Regions from separate parts of the Homo sapiens genome. Here region 2 is linked to region 1. The links come from fine-mapping of genetic effects on gene expression. A gene starts in region 1. The other region holds a variant in brackets. All regions are shown on one strand. Distances are from middle to middle.

Region 1 (8,334 bases):
GGACGTAAGTCCCGTGTTAAGCATGGACTCATGAAGAACCAGGATGGCCACCTTGTCCTTCTTGAGTCCTTAAAGCTTTTGTTATTAAACGTTCTGGAAAAGATAAAATAATCCAAATTTAATATATTGATGTGGTGACTTATAAATTGCAGAAATAATTTAAATCCAATGTTTGGTTCCATATTCCTGGAAAGACGATCAAAGCTTCAGATGCGTTTGGCTACCTGATGGGCCATTTAAACATTTATAAAGAGATTTCATTCAATTGTCATTTTCTTTTTTTTTTTTTCTTTTTTCTTTTTTTTTTTTTTGAGACGGAGTCTCGCTCTGTCGCCCAGGCGGGACTGCGGACTGCAGTGGCGCAATCTCGGCTCACTGCAAGCTCCGCTTCCCGGGTTCACGCCATTCTCCTGCCTCAGCCTCCCGAGTAGCTGGGACTACAGGCGCCCGCCACCGCGCCTGGCTAATTTTTTTTGTATTTTTAGTAGAGACGGGGTTTCACCTTGTTAGCCAGGATGGTCTCGATCTCCTGACCTCATGATCCACCCGCCTCGGCCTCCCAAAGTGCTGGGATTACAGGCGTGAGCCACCGCGCCCGGCCTGAATTGTCATTTTCAATGCATGTTTTCTGGTTGTATAAAAGCTTTCCCATGCAATAGGGCTGATGTTATAACAGTAGATTATAGTGTATTTTCACCAGACAAAGAAAACTTTTTATGATTCACTGAGGACAATCCCTTCACAATCTAGAACCTGCAGATTGGATCGTCTGAGAACACCAGAGAAAGAGAAAGACTGTCCTTGCCATCCACACTACAGCAAAACTTTGGAGCTTTAAACCTTGGGTTCATAATCTCACAGCTGAGAAGGGTCCCTCCACACTCCTGGAACTGTACATCCATTGGAACCCTTAAGGTAAAACTAACCAGAAAAGTTTCTCCCCAGAAGATGGCATCCTTGATTAGAATAGCTTTTCCCAAGATCATAGATCAAAACTTCTACTATCACAAGACTCTTATCTTTGAATATTTTTTCCTTGTTTATGCCTCTATGAACAATAGAAATTAAAAGTGGGTCTATTATATGCACTTATAGGGTATACTTTTATTTGTGAAGGATTTTGCAGCCAGCCTTAAACATGAATAACCTTATATTTCAATAGATAAAAGATGAAGGCCCAATGTAGGTAACAAACTTTAGTGGTACATACATTGCCTCATAATCAGTCAAAACTCCTCTTAACCCACATCATGGATTAAAGAGAACATTGACAAGAGGCCTTCACTCTTCTAGAAAGACATCCATTTGTTAGGTCCTTTTTCCATGGTTTAGAATAAAAGAGGCAATAATTTGAAATGTCTCCCTCATAATAGGCTCTACAGCAAATTCTACTTTAAAGGCTATCGTTACACAACAGACTTTAAATTCTCCTTTGAAAATTATACTAAGTAATAGAATTGGCTAAACAGAAAAGTACCTGTGCAGCTGTTGACACCTGTGGCCTATGGAGAAATACAGCAAATGTAAATTATAAACAATTCTGGCCGGGCGTGATGGCTGACACCCGTAACCTCAGCACTTTGGGAGGCAGAGGTAGGCGGATCCCCTGAGGTCAGGAGTTTGAGAGCAGCCTGGCCAACATGGCAAAACCCTGTCTCTACTAAAAATATGAAAATTAGCCTGGCGTGGTGGCAGGTGCCTGTAATCTCAGCTACTCAATAGGCTGAGGCGGGAGAGTCACTTGAACCTAGGAGGTGGAGGTTGTAGTGAGCTGAGATCGCCGCTGCATTCCAGCCTTGGTGACAGAGCAAGACTCCCTCTCACAAAATAAATACAATAAAAATAAATATCCAGTTGTAGGGGATTAGTGAAAAGACCACTTAGTCAAGCAAGGAGACTCTTCATCTAACTCATTCTTCAATCTATTTAATTTTAGGTGGTTTGGCTTATGGGGACCCTGGGTAAGGAGCATACTCCAAACTCTTGCTATTATCCGCCCGATAATGATAATAATAGTCTCCCTGGTGCACTGTATTCTCTCAAAGATTTTAAATGCTTGCATGCAGCCATCTCTACAACGTCAAATGATCTCTTTTCAACTGGAATAACAAAAACTGAAAGAAATGTGTGACCATGAAGGCACCGTAACCTATGAATGACATGCTGAGACCAGAAACCCAAAATGATGTAACTGAGAGTGGCGCTAAGGCCCTAAGTTCTGGTCACGCTGTCACCTAAGTAAGAACCTGGCCAAAAGTGAGGAATTTTTTTTTAAACAAAATCATGGGAGGCCATTATTTTGGACTGAGCTCATGCACTAGGCACCAACAAACCAAACCAAACTAAAATGGAGTCACTCATGCTAAATGTGACATAATCAAACCAAGGCTTTAAAAAAACACAAAATGCTAGAACAGACCAGGTTTTTTCTCCTGTAAACAGATGTTTCAGAATAAGGAGGTATCCTCTACTCAGCCCTTATTCTCTTCCTGCAAAACCCACTGTTCTACTGTTTCCTAGTGAGTTTCAAAACCATACAGGTACACTTATGACAGCGATAATAACATCAATGACCAAGGTTTTGGTCAATCTCTCAAAATTGAGAAAATGACCAAAACGGGGGAATTGTTAAGGCAAACTAAATATGGCCTGAGAAGGACTCTGTCCTTCTATATTTGAGTCCTTGTGGATGAACTGTAACATAGCTTAATAGTCAAACAAAATTGAAAACCTAACTTAATAGTATACACCTGTAACAATAACTGAGTGGTGGCCAATCCCAGCGGCCATACTTCAACCACTCACAGCCTGCTGAATGTTCAATCTGCGTTCAAATCAGGCAAACACCGAGCTGTAACCAACCTCACTGTTTCTGTACCTTACTTCCGATTCCTGTGCCTCACTTTGCCTTTTTTATCTATAAATTTGTTCTGACCATGAGGCACCCTGGGAGTCTGTGAATCTGCTGTGATTCTGGGGGTTGCCTGATTCGTGAATCTTCCATTGCTCAATTAAACTCCTTTATACTTAATTCGGCTTAAGTTTTTCTTTTATCAACAGAGTAAGCTCTCACTAATGAGTGGGCTGAGTGAAAACTGGAGGGATTTGTTCGTCTTTCTCAAGAGTAGTAGCTTCCAGAAGGAAGGGGCTGCTCTTCATTTACATTTCCCTTCCACTCCCATCCCTTAATGCCTAACATGCTGCCTGGCACATAGTAGGGGACTCAGTAAATGCTTGTTCTATGGATCAGTTCAGCTATGAAGTCTGTGTGAGCCAGTCCAGGTAAATTAGGAAGACAAGGATTTAGGACTGGGGCGAAAAGAGCCAGAACGGAAGAAGGACGCCAGGGGGAGCAAGAACCTACACTCTCCAGATATCGCGAGAGGTCCCGCGCTCGCCACGACACTGAGTGTTCTGTTTTGGGCGGAAGCGCTGGACGAGAGGAGGAATTACTCTAGGGTACAAGGCCTCGCCCAGGAGTGGGGGGTTGCTTCCGGGTCGCGCTCCCGGAAACAGGAAGTTGCCCATCCTCCTCGCCCGGCGGCAGCTGTCCCCGAGGCGGGAGGAGCCCGAGGGGCGCGAGCCCCGCATGTGAGTGACTGGGGCCCGAGGCTGGGTGGGGGGAGGCCGCCCTGTGACAGCCTCGCCGCGCCCGTCTCTGACATCCTCGCGCAGCCGCTTCTCGCCGCTGCTACCACCCTCTATCCCAGCGCGGATCCCTTTTCTCAGTCTCTCCAGTTTTGTAGACTGACAGCATCCCCTGGCAGCTCCCCCGGGGTCGACTCCCTTAAGACATCTGTCACTTTCTTTGACTCCGCCGGGGAGAGCAAAACGAGGTGGACCTTGCTTGAACTTGGTTCTCAGGCATCACAGCAGTGTCCATAACTTGAGCGTTGCTAATGAAGTCCAGATTTCTGCCCTTTTGACGGAATTTTTAAGAAATTAAGAGTAGATTCCCCACCCCCTTCTGAAAGATCTTTTTCTAATAATCGTTAGGGGGCAATAATTTTTTTTCTTTAAATGTGTACTTGGTATGTGATAAACCTGGCATCTTGGATTTCAGAAAGAAATATGACTTGGTTTCTTGACACAAGTAAAATAGTTGTTTGTAATCACCTCTTAGTAGAAGGAAATTTGCCTGCGTCGTGTTTTGTAGTATTTTAAGACTGTTAACCGTGCAGGCCACACTTTCTAGTCTCAGAGCCCTCATAGCCTTTGTATTCGCAAATATGTTTCTTTTAAAGTATTTAGTCATAAATCACTTTATAATAGAGACTACTTCCAGATACTTAGTATTCTGACTTTTCTGATGGCTCATTTGGTAGTTCCTGTGGTGGGATCTTCTATAGACGTCTCTCCCTTAATAAATTCGTTCATTTGAATTTGGGTTGTCAAAATTTCCCTCTAGGGAATAACATGCCTTTAAAATAATAACTAATAAATTCAATTCTGCTACATTGAAGTTTTGACTAAAGGTTCATGTAGCCCAACTTGCATACCAGAAAGAGGTCCTGTTTCTGTCAGACCTTTTCTGCCTTGGACTGAGGCATTTTTCAAGACCTGCTTTGAATACCTGTTCCTCCACAGCTACTCCACACACCAGAAACAATGTCCAAATGCTAGATTCCTAACCTGCTAACCTTAAACCCTCATCACATTGTTGCTACCTCTGCGTTTTTTTGTTTTTTTTTTTTTGAGACGGAGTCTCACACTGTCGCCCAGGCTGGAGTGCAGTGGCGTGATCTCTGCTCACTGCAAGCTCCGCCTCCCCGGTTCACACCATTCTCCTGCCTCAGGCTCCCGACCTCTGCATTTTTAAAAATGAATAAAATAATAAAACATAAAATGAATAAACCATGAGCCACGAGTTACATTCAATTAGTTCGGAATGATAATTTTAGGTCCTTTCTATAAATTTGTTCAACATTGATCTGATTCCACATCTGAGGTGAATTCCCACGTCTGTTCTTAGTTTTTTGTGTTTTCTCCATTTATCTCTGCTTTCAAGAAACACTATTTAGGGTGGGAGGTAGACAGGAAAATAGATGTAATGCCAAGCCCTAGAGGTGCATAGGACAAAAACTGAGGTCAGAGTCTTAAAGAGTTCACTTATTGGACAAAGCACTGGAGACTAGGCTTTTTAGGCAGAGGAAATTGTGTATGCAAAAGCAAAAAGATGTGAAATAGTATGACAGTGTAGAATGTGAAGAAGGATTGATGGGAAATGAAACTGAACAGGTAGGCAGTGACCAGATCATAAAGGGCCATGGTAAGTAATTTGGACTTTATCTTTTAAAAAAGACAGGAATCTCATTCCATCACCCAGGTTGGAGTACAGTGGTGCTATTACGGTTCACTGCAGCCTCGAACTCCTGGGCTCAAGCTACCCCTCACCTCTGCTTCCCAAGTAGCTGGGACTACAGGCAGGCACCACCACACTCGGCCAATTTTTATTTTTATTTTTTTTGTAGATACAGGGTCTTGCTATGTTACCCAGGCTGGTCTTGGAAGTCCTGGGCTCAAGCAGTCCTCCCACCTCAGCCTCCCAGTGTTGGGATTACAGGCATGAACCACCATGCTTGACTTAGGACTTTATCTTAAAATGATTGTTATTAGGTATTTAATTTGTCTGGCTATTGGAACAAATGTGTTACATCATTTTATAATTCTCTGAAATAAAACATTGTGGGGTAGAAATAATTATCCCCATTTTATACATGAAAACTGAGGCTTAGAGAGGATGAGTAGTGTCTCATGGCCACACAGTAAGTGGTAAAATCTAGAATTTGCATCCAGCTTTTTCCAACTCCAGTATCTGTGTTCTTAGTCACCATGCTAAACTGCTCCTGCAGAGGATGGGGAGTCTTGGAAGGTGCTTAGCATGAGCCAATTTGTGTTTCAAAAAAATAAGTGGCCGAGTGCAGCGGCTCACGCTTGTAATCCTAGCACTTTGGGAGGCTAAGGTGGGTGGATCACTTGAGGTCAGGAGTTCAAGACCAGCCTGGCCAACATGGTGAAACCCATTTTTTACCAGAAAAATACAAAAATTAGCTGAGTGTGGTGGCGCGTGCCTGTACTCCCAGCTACTCCAGAGGCTGAGGCACGAGAATCTCTTGAAGCCAGGAGACAGAGGTTGCAGTGAGCTGAGATCATGTCACTGCACTCCAGCCTGAGCGAAGAGTGAGACCCTGTCTCAGAAAATAAAAATAAAAAACTGGACAAGGTAGAGAATGGATTGGGGAAGAGGAGAACTGGAAGTATAGAGATTAACTACATCTTTGTGATGGTCCATAGGAGAGATGTTGAAGACCTTAACTGTGCTGTTAATGTAGAGAGGAAGGGATGAATGTGAGAATTATATAGGAGGCTGAATCAAGAGGACTTAGTGATAGTTTCATTGGTGGGAGTGAGGTAGGAGGAGAATAGTTTTTAAATTTGGAGGATTAGTGTTTCCATTAAGAAAAGAGGTGCAGTGGGAGGAATGAGTTGAAGGGGAAAACAGTAAGTTGGGTTATAGACACATTACATACAGGGAGCTATGGGAAACTTGGATCACCGTGTCTGGTAGGCAGGTAGATAAATGGGTCTTGAACCCTAGAGAGAGTTGTAGACTGGAGAAGAGATTTGGGAATCACCAATAGCTGGTGGTCAAAGTGTTGGAGGGAATAAGAAGGTCAAGGATAACTGGTGGATACCAGCAGAGAACGAGAGAATTATGTTAAGGTTTGAGTACACTTGAGGGAGATAGATAATGGGGTAGCAACAGCAGCTGCTGCAGAGAGGTCAGATAAGGTAATAACTGAAAAAAACGTCCTTCGAACTTGGCGTTTAGAAAGCCATTTGTGGCCTCAGTGAAAGCAATGTCGGTGGAGTGAGGAGGCAGAAATATGATTTCAACAGGTTAATAAATGAATGGAAACCTGAGAAACAAGAAAGTGTGTTACTTTCTCCCCCCAACCCCCAAAGGAGCTTTCCTCTGAAGGGAGGGAGGGAGAGAGTACCAGAAACTTAGAAAGGAACTATTATGGCATTTTTCTGATAGTAGAAACTGGAAAGGGTGAGGATGGAAGCAAGTAGAGGTAAGCTTAAAAATGTGAAGACTTCTTCAAGTATGTCAATGTCCTAAAAGACCAAAAAACAAAAACAAAAAAAAAAAGAAAAACCACACACTGGGGACTTGTTCTGAAGTTAAGTAGATTAAAGAGAGGCATGGCAGCCAAATTCAATGTGTGGTCATTGGTTGGATCCTGGATTTTTAAATAGCTATATGATCTTTTTAAAAAAATTTGATAGTTAAGGAAACTTGACTATAGACTGAATATTAGGTAATATTAAGAGATTACTCATTTTAATGGGTATGGCAATAATGCCAATGGTTGTGTGTAGAATAACGTCGTTATTCTTAGGAGATGCATGTTGAAATATTTAGAAATGATTTTATAATGTGTTGCAAATAACTTTCAAGTAGTTCTGGTAAAAACAGAAAGAAAATATAGCCAAATGTAAACAACTGGTAAATCTAAATGAAGGATATCCAGGTGTTCATTGTACTATTTTTGTACAAAAAGCTTTACACATTTAATGTGTACAGCTTGATGAATTTGGACATAAGTATGCCCTTGTGAAACCATCACCATGATCCATGCCATCAACCTATCCATCACCTTCAAGTTTCCTCCTGCCTTCTTACTTATTATTACTATTAGCAATAAGAACACTTAACATAAGACCTACCTTCTTAGCATATTTTTAAATATACAATACAGTATTGTTAACTCTGGGCACTGTGCTGTATAGTAGGTCTCTAGGAGTTATTCATCTTGTATAACTGAAACTTTGTATTCTTTGCCCAGTACCTCCCTGTTTCCCCCTGCCTGCAGCCTCCTGCAACCACCATTCTGTTCTTTGCTTCTATGAGTTTAGCTATTTTAGATTAATCGCACAAGTGGTATCATGTAGTATTTATCTTTCTGTGTCTGGCTTATTTCACTTAGCATAATGTCCTCCAGGTCCATCCGTATTGTTACAAATAGCAGGATTTCTTTCTTTTTTAAGGCTGAATAATATTCCATTGTATGTATATACTACATTTAAAAAAAAAATTTTATTCTTTTGACACAGAGTCTCAGTCTGTTGCTCAGGCTGGGGTGCCATGATGTGATCTCTGCTCACTGCAACCTCCACCTCCCAGGTTCAAGTGATTCTCATGCCTCAGCCTCCCGAGTAGCTGGGATTATAGGCATGCGTCACCATGCCTGGCTAATTTTTGTATTTTTAGTAGAGACAGGGTTTTGCTATGTTATGTTGGCCAGGCTGATCTCCAGCTCCTGGCCC
Region 2 (8,334 bases), 31 kb after region 1:
ATGCATGACAGGTTAAAAGATATTTTCCACAAAGTGTAAAAAGGTATACAGAGAAGAGTACCTCTCCTTCCTGCTCCTGTCCTCTACTCCCTCCTCAGAGGCTGCTTCATATATACCTTACCTTTTCAGCGGTCTCCAGTGCTTATCATTGTTTGTTTTTAAAAATTATTATGGGCTGGATGCGGTGGCTTGCGCCTGTAATCCCAGCATTTTGGGAGGCCAAGGTGGGCAGATCATGTGAGCCCAGGAATTCAAGACCAGCCTGGGCAACATGGCAAGACCCCGTTTCAACTAAAAATACAAAAATTAGCCATGTGTGGTGGCATGCGCCTGTAGTTCCAGCTCCTCGGAAGGCTGTAGCAGGAGAATCCCTTGAACCCAGGAGGCAGGGGTTACAGTGAGCTGGACGGCACCACTGCACTCCAGCCTGGGCGACAGAGTGAGACTCTGTCTCAAAATAAATAAATAAATAAAAGTCATTATGATGTCTTTCCTTTCTTGTTTCATTGTTGGAGCTACTGGATGTACCAGCTATGCTCTTTCAGTATCTGTTTTCTCCATATCCCTTCCTCTCTCAGACTTTGACCCCTGGTGGACAAACGACTGTGAGCAGAATGAGTCAGAGCCCATTCCTGCCAACTGCACTGGCTGTGCCCAGAAACACCTGAAGGTGATGCTCCTGGAAGACGCCCCAAGGAAATTTGAGAGGCTCCATCCACTGGTGATCAAGGTGAGCAGAAGCCTGAGTCTCCCGCTGATTGGCTGCTTGCTTAAAGGCTAGGTCAAGCTCTAGGAAATTTCTGACAAGTAACTCTGTGTTGTTTTGTTTTGTTTCCTGCCTTGCCAAGACGGGAAAGCCCCTGTTGGAGGAAGAGATTCAGCATTTTTTGTGCCAGTACCCTGAGGCGACAGAAGGCTTCTCTGAAGGGTTTTTCGCCAAGTGGTGGCGCTGCTTTCCTGAGCGGTGGTTCCCATTTCCTTATCCATGGTGAGTGTGAAAAGGGCCGGGCACAGTGGCTCATGCCTGTGATCCCAGCACTTTGGGAGGCCGAGGCAGGCAGATCACTTGAGCCTAGGAGTTGCAGACCAGCCTGGCCAACATGGCAAAACCCCATCTCTACTAAAAATACAAAAATTAGCCAGGTATGGTGGTGCATGCCTGTAATCCCAGCTACTCTGGAGGCTGAGGCATGAGAATCACTTGAACCTGGGAGGTGGAGGTTGCCATGAGCTGAGATCGCGCCATTGCCCTCCAGCTTGGGTGACAGAGTGAGACTGTGTCTCAAAAAAATGGGGGGGCTATGGGGGCACTTAGCGTGCGAGTAGGAAAGGGGCAGACCAGAAATACCTGCAAAACAGTAATAGCTATCACTGAGCCACTACCACAGGCCCAACACTTTACAAATCCAATGCTGGGATCCCACTGATAAACCAGTGATGAGAGATAAAAGGGATGGATGAAGAGGTGTGTCAGAAGGAGGGGTGCCACCATGGGGGGGACAGCAAGTTTGTCTAATAGAGTCATAATTTATTTCGAAGTATGCATTTAGCATTTTATGTAGAATGGGGCCTCATGCAGGGGGCTGAAGAGAGAGTGCAAATAATAGAAGGAGAATTGCATTTTTTGGCACTTGTTTCTGCCAGGCAGTGTGGCTTGGTGCTTAGTGTCTGTGTCTCACTGGGGACACTGATAATAACTCTGGAAAGTAGGAATGATTGTTGTCATTCTTCAGATCAGACAAGTGGGGATCAGTAGCTAGGCGTGGTGGCTCATGCCTATAATCCCAACACTTTGGGAGTCTGAGGCGGGTTGATCACTTGGGCCCGGGAGTTGGAGACCAGCCCAGGCAACATAGGGAGACCCCATCTCTACAAAAAATATCCAAGCTACTTGGGAGGCTGAGGTGGGAGGATGGCTTGAGCCTGGGAGGTTGAAGCTGCAGTAAGCCATGATCATACCACTGCACTCCAGCCTGGGCGACAAAGTGAGACCCTGTTTCAAAAAAAAAAAAGGTTGGGGGAGGGGGAAAGAAAGAAAGAAAAATGGGAAACAGAGAGATTAAGTAACTTGCCTAAGGTTACCCAGCCAGGATCGAAACCCCAGTTTGTCCTGCTGTTCCTTCCTGTGCCCTGCGGAAGACATGGTTCATTCCTTGTGGTTAAGGTTGCTGTCTAGTAAGAAAAGAAAGCCAGTTTCCATCTTAGAACTGTTTCGAAAGAATTAAAATGACTTTTTCAGGCTTTTTGTTAATTTCTTAATGCTTCTATCTTTCTTTAAATGTGCTGTTTGTTTGCGTGCTAGAGTGCCCAGTTGAACAAGCTGAGCAGGCTTCCCCCTGCGTCTCCCTGTGCCTCAGAAGAAGGGTCATGCTTTTTGTCCCTTCCTCCTTCTCTCTTCTCCCCTTCCCCCGCCTGGCCTGCTGTTACTTCAGTCTTTTCCAAGATAGAATGAATAGATTATTTCTTTCCTTCCAATATATATTGTTTTAGCTGCAATTTAGAAACACTCCACCCACATACTCAAATCATGGCTGTAGAGTTTATGCCTGTGTGTGTACACATTATAGTTCATTGACTCTGTGCAACTATTCTTCAGGGACCTAGTACTTAAGATACTGTACTCATATTTTTCCCTCTTTACCCACCGCCCACAGTTTTCCCACCCTTACTTGGCTCTCTCTTAGTCATGGGCTGGCTTGACCAGTTTAATTACTTTTTTTCTGTTTCATACTTCTACAGGAGGAGACCTCTGAACAGATCACAAATGTTACGTGAGCTTTTTCCTGTTTTCACTCACCTGCCATTTCCAAAAGATGCCTCTTTAAACAAGTGCTCCTTTCTTCACCCAGAACCTGTTGTGGGGAGTAAGGTAGGAAATTTTGAGAGGACTTGGATCTAGAATTTTCTTTATTTGGGACCTGGACTGATGTCATAACCAAGGCCTTCCCTGCATATTGGCTTAGAGGGTTACAGGGTGAATTGAGGGGACACCCACACAGTCTAGTTCTCCCCTCCTGCTGCTAGCCAGGAGACTTGCAGGGGCCCACCTTGTCATGAAGGCAGGTTTCCAGAAAATCTAGTTACCTTGCAAATCTGCCTCCTGCCCTTAACACCTGAGGCAAACTACTTTTCTATATTAAAAGAAGTGAAATCTTAAAATTTGAAGGACTTGAGGGTGCAATTAGTCTGGCTTTCCTACCTTAAATTAGAAAGTAGGCAAGCAGCCATGATCGGTGGTCGCTCACGCCTGTAATCCAGCACTTGGGGAGGCTGAGGCAAGAGGATTGCTTGAGCCTAGGAGTTTCAGACCAGCCTGGGCAATATAGGGAGACCCTATCTCTATTTTTTCAAAAAAAGAAAAGAAAGCTATAAGGTAATAGTATGTGGATGAATAGAATAACTGCTCCATTTTGTGGATAAGGAAACTGAG[T/C]CCCAGAGAGATTAAGTGAGTTGCCCAAGGACACACCCTTTACCCTCTCACCCCCAGGATGGTTTTTGCCAGAAATAAACAATTAAGAGATTTCAGGTAGAGAACTTGAAAGGCAAAAAGTGTGGGAGCCTGGGAAGGATTTGATAGGCAGGCAGCCCAGCTGGGGTAGAAAAGCCCACTCTGCCCCCATCATTTCCCACTTCAGTCTGGGGCCAAGTGCTCAGAGCCAAAGTTACCTCTCTGGGGCCAGTGGACTGGGAGAAGCTGTTCTGCATTTGTGTCTGTTTACTTTTCTCTGAATTGCTCCTTTTGTTGAGTCTCATTCCTAAGGAAGGTTTTTGAGCCTGGATCGGTTTGGGAGAATTAAAAGCATGCATTTTCCTTCATAAAAAAATAAATTTCCCAAACTATGGCCCCCTGCCACCTCTGGACCATGGCTTCCACCTCCTGATACTATCGCTTGGCTCCAAATTTGCTGAATTGTGTTAAAGGAATTTAAAAGCCTATAAAAACAATCATTTTGTCTAGAAGTAAGAAGTTCTGTCTGCCAGCACTGGGGTGGAGATGCTGGGCTCTTGCCTCAGATTTTAAAGAAGTTTATCCTGCTGTCGCCGGCTGGAATTCCAGGCCCTTGTATGATTTCATCTTCATAAATATAATTCTGGGACACGGCTTTATCTTTCTCTTGGTTTTACCACTTGAATACCAAAGTTAATTTCTCCAGCGTGTGCAACACCAAGGAGCCCAGCCAAAGGAGTAAATACAGAGTTACTCAAATGCTTACGAGAGTCATGCTGTGGTTCTCGAGGATGTTTTGGGAAGGGCAGTGGCCAGACAGGCAAAACTCTTGAGAACCCAGTTTCTTAGAGAATCTGTTTCCCCACCCTGGCCCAAGCTCCCCTTTCCCCGCAGCCTTGTTACCCCACCCTGTTGTCCACATCCCTGGGCCCTGGGCCCTGGGCCCTGTTAAAGTCACGTGTCTGTGGGCCCAGTGTCCAAAGGCAGCCTTGGGACAGAATTGGGGAGCTGGTTGTTAAGTGGCACTCGGGGAGAAGGTGAGGGCCTCCAAGGCCCACTTCACCCACTCCACGGTGTGGCCTAGGGCTGGCCTGTGCCACCCTCTTGTCTGTTTCTTCCCATCCTGGGAATGGATGAACATGACCCTGCCCACTTCAGGCCTGTGTGAAGAAGGGATACAGCCACTTGTTTTGGTCCTTCTGAGATTGTTTTGAGGACTACAGATGTTAAGGCTTCTGCCAATATTAGTACCAGTCAACTGAAGGCTAGCTGAAGACACCAGGCTGTCCCTGTCACCACATTAGCCGGTGAAATGGCTCTGGTGTTGCCATGAAAACATTATGGGCAAGGCCTGTGGCAGCAGCAGAGAGAACAGGGTTGGGGACAGGGGAAGATGGGGCCAAAACCCAAGACTCTGGAGGCCCTGAGTGGTGAAGAGAAAACCAAGACATGGCCCAGGGAGTCAGACTTCTGGCTCCCACTTTATATGGGCATATAAAGGGTTTCTCTGAAGGGCAAGAGATAGGAGGAAGAGATGAGAGAAGAGGCCCTAGGGGTTTTCTGTCATCATCAAGGTAAGGAGAAATGTCCCAGCAAGACCCATCTCTCTCTTTATCCCTATTCCTTGCCCTGGTCCCAGCCCCACCCCAGGGTTCACAGCTCCTTCCCTGGCACATAGCAGGTTGCATTTAATGCCTGTTGCTGGCAGTATCATGCCCTCAGAGGGGCAGTAGTTACCTGTGCAGGTGCATATGCTGATTGTCTCCTTAGTTTTCAAAATCAGAGGCCAGTCTTAGTGTCATTAGTTTTTAATCGGTAGCATGGCATATCTGCTCCCCTGGGTCTTGCCAGGCAGTGTAAACTTAAACTTGCTGCTGTACAATTCTTATCAGGGCCCTGGTAGTAAGAAATAACATTCCATGGAAGAGTGCCCAAAGGATATGCTGATTATCTATTTATCTAAAAAGTTTTCATCAAACCAGAATCTCAGAATGTTGTATACTTCAGCCACCATGTGCTGGTTTCTGCTGGAACTACCTTTGTTAAATTGCAATTAGGTATTTTTCTTTGGCTTACTTTGAAGCTGTGGCTAAAAATAGTTGCAAATTACAAAGCTCATGCAGGATCTACTCTGGGGCTCTCGTTGAGGGTATTGCCCACTAAATCACACAGTGCCTCTTTAGGAGAACCCATAGAAGAGATTTTACTCTGGTCTTAGTACCAAGAGATGCCATTCTTAGGAGAAAGTAGTTTGTTTTTGTCTTTTGGACATAATTGCAAATTTTTGTTATTGGTTCTATTTCCTCTTTGCTTATGCTAGGAAACTCAGAGCCATATGTGAAAGCATTTTTATTTACTAAACCCCCTGGTTTTATTTCGTTTTCTTTGCCTTCCTTTTCCTCCCCTCCTCATTCTTTCCTCCAGATGCATAAGATGCCTGACCTATTTATCATTGGCAGCGGTGAGGCCATGTTGCAGCTCATCCCTCCCTTCCAGTGCCGAAGACATTGTCAGTCTGTGGCCATGCCAATAGAGCCAGGGGATATCGGTATGTAGGGCCCCAGGAGGGCAGGGTCAATGGATCTTTTTAGTTTTTAACTCAAAAGCTATTTTAAGAATCACATACTGCCTTCACAAAAGTTTTATTTAGTAGAATCAAAAATAACATTCTCCTGTTAACAGGCTCAATATTTATGCTTAGAAATGAAACAACTTAATGAGAAAACATAGCAGAAAGAAATGGCTTGTACATACAACATATAGAATGCGTGTGTCTATTGATCATAGAAACTTCAAGTTAGGAAGGATTCTGGAAAATATTTAGACCAATCCCTCGTTTTATAGATGAAAAGGTTGAGACCCAGAGAGGAGAGGTGACCACCCCAAGGCCCCACTGTCAGTCGAGCAGAGCGTCAGGTCTTAAGTGCCTGCTTGAACACAGTCAAGCCAGGAGAGGGACAATCAAGGACTACAGGAATATATACCCATTTTGCAAATAAAACAATACCAAGCAGTATATAAGGGCAATGGTCACACAAGGAAATGTTACCTTCTGTGTGGCTGCCACAGCCAAGTCACAGCCTCACATTGATGACTCACCCTTGACCCTGGCTCAGTGTTTGCCCAAATGTGACTTGTCCTGTGCCTTATATCCTAATTAAAAATCTGTTCCAAAGAAACAGGTTTGAATCCACTGCTGTCAGTAGCAATCTGTTTGACAGCCGAGTTTTCTTGGAAGAAGCAAATAAATCAGCGAGTGTCACCATTGACCTCCTTGCTTTTCCTGCCTCACAAAACCTAGGCAAGACCTGGAGTCTCTGGCAGAGCCCAGACTGGTTTTCCAATTGATTTCTTTTAATTTTACCCATTCAGAAGACCCCCAAGCCCCTAGAAACCTTGCATCTCATATGAGGGTAGGAATTGGACTGCAAGCTATGCCAAGTCTTAATTTAGGTTACATAACTTTTATTTCAATTCAGAAATGAAAAATAAAAATAAGGTACAAATCAAGCATTAACTAATAATGGAGCACAGCTGGCCTGGCTCTTGGGAAACTTCCTACAAAAACGAGGATTCTTGTATGGAAATCGTTCTGAATCTTTTTCCTGTAATGGAGTGACTCTTAACACAAGAGATGACTATTGCGAAAATCTCTCTGGCATATTTAGGTTTGGAGCATGTGGTTGTGCTTGAACAAGTTTCTGTTTTATATTTTACAAATGCCTAACAATTCAGACAACTACAGAAACACCTTAGTTATCTGAATTCCAGACTTCCGGCTCCCACGAGCAACCGGAATACCAATTACAGAATTAGGGAAAAATTAAAAAAAAAAAAGTCTGGCAGTGATCAAGAAAGCTTGAGCATCAAATGCTGGTACAGATAGTCCAGATTAGCCTAACATCCGGTGCATGATACCTGCTGTGCTGTGCCTGGCTGGTTTGTTGACTAGAAAGAAAGGACCCCTATAGTTGGCAGTGTCTATAAAAGGCCAGTCACATGACAGAACACAGAGATGGATGGGGACTGAAGAGAAGAAGAAGAGGAGAGCAAGTCTGGGAGAAGAATGGGGGCAGGGAGGGGTGGGGAAGCCAGCGAGCACCTGAAGCAGTGACAGAAATAGACATGATGGCTGTCACTGCCACGGTTAACAATGAGGACAGGAAAGCAGACCCTGACCAAGAAGAATCATTCAGTGTTACAGGACAGATGGCGGTTCCTCTACCTTAGGGACCCTTAAGAATGGCACCATGACATGCAAGTTCTATGATTTTTGACAAAATGTACATTTTCCTGTGGAGATGGAGGGGAGAGGGGTTCCAGATCACCAGAAAACCTTTTGGGGGTCAGGTACAACATCTGCAGTCACTGTACAGGATAGTCATTGCCCATCATGACCAAGTCACCAAGTAAAAGTTGAATTCTACTCAGTGCTCTTCATTTAAAGATGAGCAGGGCCCATAGTACGCTAGAATAAATTTCCCATCAAGAGATTTTTTTTGTTTAAAATTTTATTTTCTTATGGTAAAAACACTTAACATGAGATCTACCCTCTCAACGAATTTTTAAGTGTACAAGACAGCATTGTTAGGGGCTGAGCAGGGTAGCTCACACCTATAATCCCAGCACTTTGGGAGGCCAAGGCAGGAGGATTGCTTGAGCCCAGGAGTTCAAGACCAGTCTGGGCAAGATGGTAGGACCTTGTATCTACCCAAAATTACAAAATTAGCCAGGCGTGGTGGCACACGCCTGTAGTTCCAGCTACTCAGGAAGCTGAGTTGGGAGGATCTCTTGAGCCCAGGAATTTGAGGCTGCAGTGAGCTATGACTGCACCGCTGCACTCCAGCCTGGGCAATGAAGCGAGACCCTGTCTCTAAAATCACTGA

Evidence for each region.
Region 2: its variant is fine-mapped to the expression of C6orf89 in whole blood (TOPMed, PIP 0.92).

Annotation. Positions count from the first base shown.
Region 1 is chr6:36,882,438-36,890,771 of GRCh38, forward strand. It overlaps C6orf89 (chromosome 6 open reading frame 89), which reads left to right and starts at 3,515. Exons shown (of 9, transcript NM_001286635.2): 1 at 3,515-3,591. RefSeq lists an enhancer at 3,275-3,354 and a silencer at 3,575-3,754.
Region 2 is chr6:36,913,706-36,922,039 of GRCh38, forward strand. It overlaps C6orf89 (chromosome 6 open reading frame 89), which reads left to right. Exons shown (of 9, transcript NM_001286635.2): 5 at 579-730; 6 at 849-988; 7 at 2,740-2,869; 8 at 5,873-5,996. Among named protein-coding and RNA genes, the nearest start is that of C6orf89, 32 kb to the left of the region's middle. The variant T/C (reference allele first, on the strand shown) is at 3,431.